Linked DNA regions of Homo sapiens: region 1 is linked to region 2. Evidence: fine-mapped expression QTL. A gene starts in region 2. The other region holds a variant in brackets. All regions are shown on one strand. Distances are between the middles of the regions.

Region 1 (2,918 bases), 29 kb before region 2:
TGAAAGAAGCAGTTTTCCTTCCCATGTCTGTCAAAGGAAGTTTTGTTAGTCATAGCGAATGCCTCTTAGCTGAGCCTTTCTGGACAGTAAGAGATGATTATGTCAGCTCTATTTTACAGACGTTTACCCTTTCTTTATCCTGTAACTGGGGCAGCAGATGGCTGTCTGATGTACAGGTTGTCAGACGGACATCTGACTTGTTGCCCTGGGGAATGGTCACAGGCAAACCAGGTCAGTGGTTTGAATTTAAAGCGATGGACATCAAGTGGCAAAAAGAATAAATAAAGATTTACGGATCCTGTATTTGATAAGTTTCTCCTGTTTAATGGCAACCTGGATTATATGATTTGGATACTCTCATTCTAATGAGATGATAGAAATAAAAGCATATTCTAAGAGTGAAGCTACATTGTAGAATCCAGTTTTCACTGCCTCTTCAAAACACAGCCTGAGAGTGTGTGGGGGTTGCTATAGAAATGGTGGTTACTGAACCAGCCTCTTACCACGTACGATGCATTCGTGTCAGGCTCTCAGGAATACCCACTCACAATTGGCCTGTAGTAGATTCGTCTGCACTTCAGACGGTGAATGTTACGGCTATGACAAGCTCATTTAATTAGTCCTTTTACCTAAGTGACGGACAACTTGCCCTTGAAGGTGGAGACTCATTTAAAACACAGATCTAAGATTGTTTTTCAGGTTCATTGGGTTTTTAATTGGGGGTGGGGGGGAAGGGCGGCAAAGAGTGGGAGTTCTTAAAGCACAAAATTATGTTTACAACGTAAAGAAAATGAAACTATTATTGAACATGGAAATGATGAGCTTTGGGTGATAATGTCATGTGAATGCAGGCTCATCAATTGTAGCGAAGGCACCTCTCTGGTAGGGGATATTGATCAAGAGGGAGTCTGGGCTGTATGTGGGATATCTGCACCTTCCTTTCAGTTTTGCCGCGAACCTAAATCTGCTCTTTAAAAAATAGTCTTCAGTGAAATCATTATTACAATATTAGCTTATCTTTGTCTCTATATATCACAAGCCACATGACTAGGTGAAGTAACCCAGATTGGAATACTGAGGTGGGTGATTGGATTATAGGGATAAACAGTACTACACTGTGCCCCCAAACATTAGAATGAAAGAAGGGAGTTCATTTCTTTACCAAGTCTGTGCGTAGATGTGTGACGTGATTTTAGAACCTTGGGCATCATCTTTTATTTTTTGAAAAAGAATAGATGCCGTAGTTCAGGGCATTCAGCAAAGGAGGAATTCAACTTACCTAAGGTAATATCAACATATCCCTAAGAAAGCTGTTATTGGAAATAGGCCTTTTTACAGTGGAAATATTCAGAGTCAAGGCTATGGCTTAGAAATAAAGAAATAACTCTCAGGAAAAGTGTCTGTACTTTCCCAGATGTCAAAATCACTCTTAGGGGTGAATGGGGCTTTAATGAGACCGGTAGGGGAAAAGGGGGTAATGTACCTGCAAAAAAAAAAAGCGATTGAAGTGATCACAGATAGCAAAGAACCCGGAGAGCATGGGACTTGTTTGGGTGTGATGACAGTTCAGTGAAAACTTTGTCTCACCAAAGATCTTGGCAGCCAGGCGGTCAGTTGTGACTTTTCATGGAGATGCCAGTTGGTGTCTGTTGCCACTGTGGACTCAGCATCGCAGTGGCTCTGTACCACTCCTGTTCTCC[A/G]ATGGAGTGCAGGAAGGCCGGGTAGCACTGGTCCTGCCCATGGGAGAACAACCAAGCTGTGATCTCAGAACATCGACATTTGTTTTTCAGTGTTGCCTAGCAACTCAAAAAACAATCTTGTATTATCAATCCATTCCTAGGAATCATTAAGCCTTTTGTGTTTGTCTCCCCCCAAAATGAGAACTTTCATAAAATAATAGCATCACATTTGTTCTAGTATGATCGGGTTCAGGGGGCACTTTTGTTTAAAAACCCCATTCTTAGGGACTTAGGTCTCTTAACGTATCATTTTATGTAGAACTAGAATTTCCCGTCTTGGTATAGCCTGCTTTTGTGATCTTGGAGTTGTAGAGGTTTTATTTTACACTTCATTCTTAGTTACCACTTATGGAGTATTCACTTTGTGGATTATCTGTGGCAAATTTGTGTCTTCCTGCGGGCTTTCCCCATCACCCAGGAGCCTCAAGGCCCTCTTAGTTTGCTGCTATTTGGCCTGGATTTTCTTTTTCAAGTCAGAGTCTCACTCTGCCTCCCAGGTTCAAGCGGTTCTCCTGCCTCAGCCTCCCAAGTAGCTAGGACTACAGGCAAGTGCCACCACACCCAGCATATTTTTGTATTTTTAGTGGAGATGGGGGTATCACCATGTTGGCCAGCGTGGTCTCAAACTTCTGGCCTCAAGTGATCCTCCTGCCTCAGCCTCCCAAAGTGCTGGGATTACAGGCAGTGAGCCACCACGCCCAGTCTGGCCTGGATTTTAAGGACAGCATCTAACACAATCATTCTAATATTAACCTGGGTGAAAAAGAACTAGGAAAGTAAAGCCACTATATTTCAGAATTCAGTACTTTTAAGTATCACCTGGTTTCAGTTGCCTCCACTTGAGTGGGTAATTAGAAGGTAGAATATTATTGATAGATGTGAATATTGCACTGGATGAGACACAGCTGATAGCATTCGTGAACAGGATAGAGGCAGTGTGCAGCCCAGCCACCGAGACGGCTTGGTCTTGAATGCCGGCTCCTCCTCTGGTGACTCGTTGTGTGGTCTTGAGCAAGTCCTTTTTCGTCTCTGGGCTTCAGTTTTCTCCTCTATAAAATGGGGATCATAATAGCCCCAGCCCCTCCCTCATAGAATTGCTGTGAGTGGAGAGTGCCTACCACAGAGCCTGGCGCTTGGAAAACCCTCCGTATGTGTTTGCCGCTCTTATCATCATCATCG
Region 2 (2,918 bases):
CTTTCAAGGAAGGAATGTTTATTCTTCTTTGTTTTGCACTGAAGTTGAGGCTTAGTGGTTAAGTAATTGAGGTCACCCAGCTAGAAACAGTGGTGCACGGCTTAAACAGCCAGCTCTCTGGAAATGAATGCACTTAAATTATAAATGTCCCTGATAAAGGATGCATAGGACAGAACTTACAAATGGAATACATAATAATCTGTATAATGAAATACATAAGGCTGGGCGTGGCAGCTCAGGCCTGTAATCCCAGCACTTTGGGAGGCTGAGGTGAGTGGATCTCTTAAGGTCAGGAGTTCAAGACCAGCCTGGGCAACATGGTGAAACCCTGTCTCCACTAAAAATACAAAAATTAGCTGGGTGTGGTGGTGGGTGCCTGTAATCCTAGCTACTCGGGAGGCTGAGGCAGGAGAATTGCTTGAGCCCGGGAGGCAGAGGTTGCGGTGAGCCGAGATCACGCCACTGCACTCCAGCCTGGGCAACAAGAGCGAAGCTCCGTCTCAAAAAAAAAAAAAAGAAAAGAAAAGAAAAGAAAGTGTGTGCCCTAAGCTCTGCCAGGGGATACACAACATCATTTAAGTGATAGTGACCCTGTGCATTTGGAACTTTATTTAGGATAAACTAGCACAGACAAATGCAAAAACAAAGAGGCATCGCACCCAAGAAAATGAAACCAAAACCAAAAAGGAAGGAAACCAGAAAGCCACAGAATGGTACGTAGGCCACAAGCATGACAAACTCAGTGTGATTTCTTGTGTTCACCCTCTCACAGACATCGCTTATGCAGGTGTTTAGACCTAGAGGACCTCATAAAAATGAGTAAAGTTAGAAATGGGGGGTGATTTTTCAACCATATTGATATTCCACGATTTCTTGTTTGCTGCATTGACACCATAGTTAAAGCAAGTTGCAATTATGTCTTGGGGACTTTTATGACATCACAGAGAACTTGAAAAGGGCATGATGGTTGTCATGGTCCTTCAAACAGGAGAAGGCAGTGACAAGGAGAAAGGCAGTTGCTCTCATAGATCAGGGAGAAAGCCAGCTAAACTCCAGGCGAAATAGAAATTGCAAGTCTTCTCCTCCCCGCCAAAAAAAAAAAATGATTTTCAAAGCTGTAATTGTAAATATACACTAAAATACCTGGCAAATGTTTTTTCCATTCTTCGCAGCCATTGTGAGTTGTTTCAGGTTGGTATTTTGGTACCTTCAAAGTGGCTCATAATTCTCGCATTGCTAGGCTTTTGCACCTTAACAGGATGGGCAGGAATAGAAGAACCTGAAAGAGGCTTGGTGGTCTCACAGCAGAGGAAATTGAAGGCTGAAGTCACAAGTGTTGTGTTGACCTTTCCACATATGCAATGGGTGACCACACAGAGGTGGGCCTCATCTCCTGACACTCGGCCCAGTGTGCAGCCACCTCTGCATGCTGCTGCCCCATCTCACCTCACTGGCACCCTCTGCTATCTGTCTACAGTATGCATTCAGCACTCCATAATGAGGGTCTAAGGCATAAGTAAACCATGCTAATTATTAAAATCTAGGATTTGGAGAAGAAGCTCTGGGTGTCAGGCCTGGCTCTGACCAACAGACAGGTGACTCACTTCTGATGCTTTAGCAAGAGGTTGGGGGTATTTGCTCTCCTCACCTCTGGGTGAGTTGAATTCAAGTGAGACAATACATATCAAAGTTTTTGTAAGTTGTAAATTACAAAAACAGTTTATTTCTCTGAACTATTACTAGTATCTTACAGTTCCCTAATCTTGTTGCTCTAGTGTGACAATGGTCATTTTGGGGCTATATCAGCTGCTTCTCAGCTACTTTTTAAGGAAAATGGTAGACAAAACAGTGGCATCTCTTTTTCCCCATTCTATTACTTTTGTTTGTTTGTTTTTTTGAGACAGAGTCTTACTCTTTCACCCAGGCTGGAGTGCAGTGGCGCTACCTTGGCTCACTGAAACCTCTGCCTCCTGGGTTCAAGAAGTTCTCCTGCCTCTGCCTCCCTAGTAACTGGGACTACAGGCATGTACTACCATGGCTAACTTTTGTGTTTTTAGTAGAGATGGGGTTTCACCATTTTGATAGTTACTACTGAATGTCAATTTGATTGGATTGAAGGATACAAAGTATTGATCCTGGGCGTGTCTGTGAGGGTGTTGCCAAAGGAGATTAACATTTGAGTCAGTGGGCTGGGAGAGGCAGACCCACTCTTAATCTGGGTGGTCACCACCTAATCAGCTGCCAGCACAGCTAGAATACAAAGCAGGCAGAAAAATGTGAAAACAGAGACTGTCCTAGCCTCCCAGCCTCCATCTTTCTCCCGTGCTGGATGCTTCCTGCCCTCGAACATCAGGCTCCAAGTTCTTCAGTTTTGGAACTCGGACTGGCTCTCCTTGCTCCTCAGACTGCAGACGGCCTATTGTGGGACCTTATGATCATGTGAGTTAATAATAAACTCCCCTTTATATATACATATGTGTGTATATATGTATGTGCATGTGTGTGTGTGTATATATATATATTATTATATATAATATATATATTCCATTAGTTATATCCCTCTAGAGAACCCTAATACAACCATGTTGGCCAGGCAAGTCTCGAACTCCTGGCCTCAAGTAATCTGCCCACCTCGGTCTCCCAAAGTGCTGGGATTACAGGCGTGAGCCATGGTGCCCGGCCCCATCGTACTGCTTTCTGCAAGCTTCAGCTGAGTAATATCTCCTTTGCTCAAAGGGGATGTTTTGCCTGGTGTCTGAAGATAGCCAGTGAGCTCTGTGAAGGTGCAGCCTTCTTAAAGATTTGTCTGGAAACATGTGTTAGGACACTGTCTACAAGGCAATAATGTTAGGGTAAGTCCCCAATCACCATAATTTGCTACTGAAAGCAATACCTCTGTAAAACATGGCAGCCGTTCT

Alleles and levels. Alleles are on the strand shown, and positions count from the first base shown. SD is a standard deviation of normalised expression in the study named.
For the expression in putamen of the gene that starts at base 1,228 in region 2, allele G in region 1 goes with a lower level than allele A (moderate effect, 0.51 SD a copy in GTEx).

Evidence for each region. PIP is the estimated chance that this variant, and not a neighbour inherited with it, causes the effect. A credible set is the group of variants that fine-mapping cannot tell apart.
Region 1: its variant is the best candidate, but not a certain one, in a credible set for the expression of FAM171A1-AS1 in putamen (GTEx, PIP 0.55).

Annotation. Positions count from the first base shown.
Region 1 is chr10:15,236,334-15,239,251 of GRCh38, reverse strand. The region is part of intron 5 of FAM171A1 (family with sequence similarity 171 member A1); the gene reads left to right. It overlaps FAM171A1-AS1 (FAM171A1 antisense RNA 1), which reads right to left. Exons shown (of 3, transcript XR_007062068.1): 2 at 1,588-1,733. Among named protein-coding and RNA genes, the nearest start is that of FAM171A1-AS1, 29 kb to the right of the region's middle. The variant A/G (reference allele first, on the strand shown) is at 1,701.
Region 2 is chr10:15,206,897-15,209,814 of GRCh38, reverse strand. It overlaps FAM171A1-AS1 (FAM171A1 antisense RNA 1), which reads right to left and starts at 1,228. Exons shown (of 3, transcript XR_007062068.1): 1 at 1,144-1,228. LOC105376434 (a long non-coding RNA gene) reads left to right here and starts at 2,415. Exons shown (of 4, transcript XR_930699.2): 1 at 2,415-2,439. It overlaps LOC107984211 (a long non-coding RNA gene), which reads left to right. Exons shown (of 3, transcript XR_001747379.2): 3 at 616-1,558.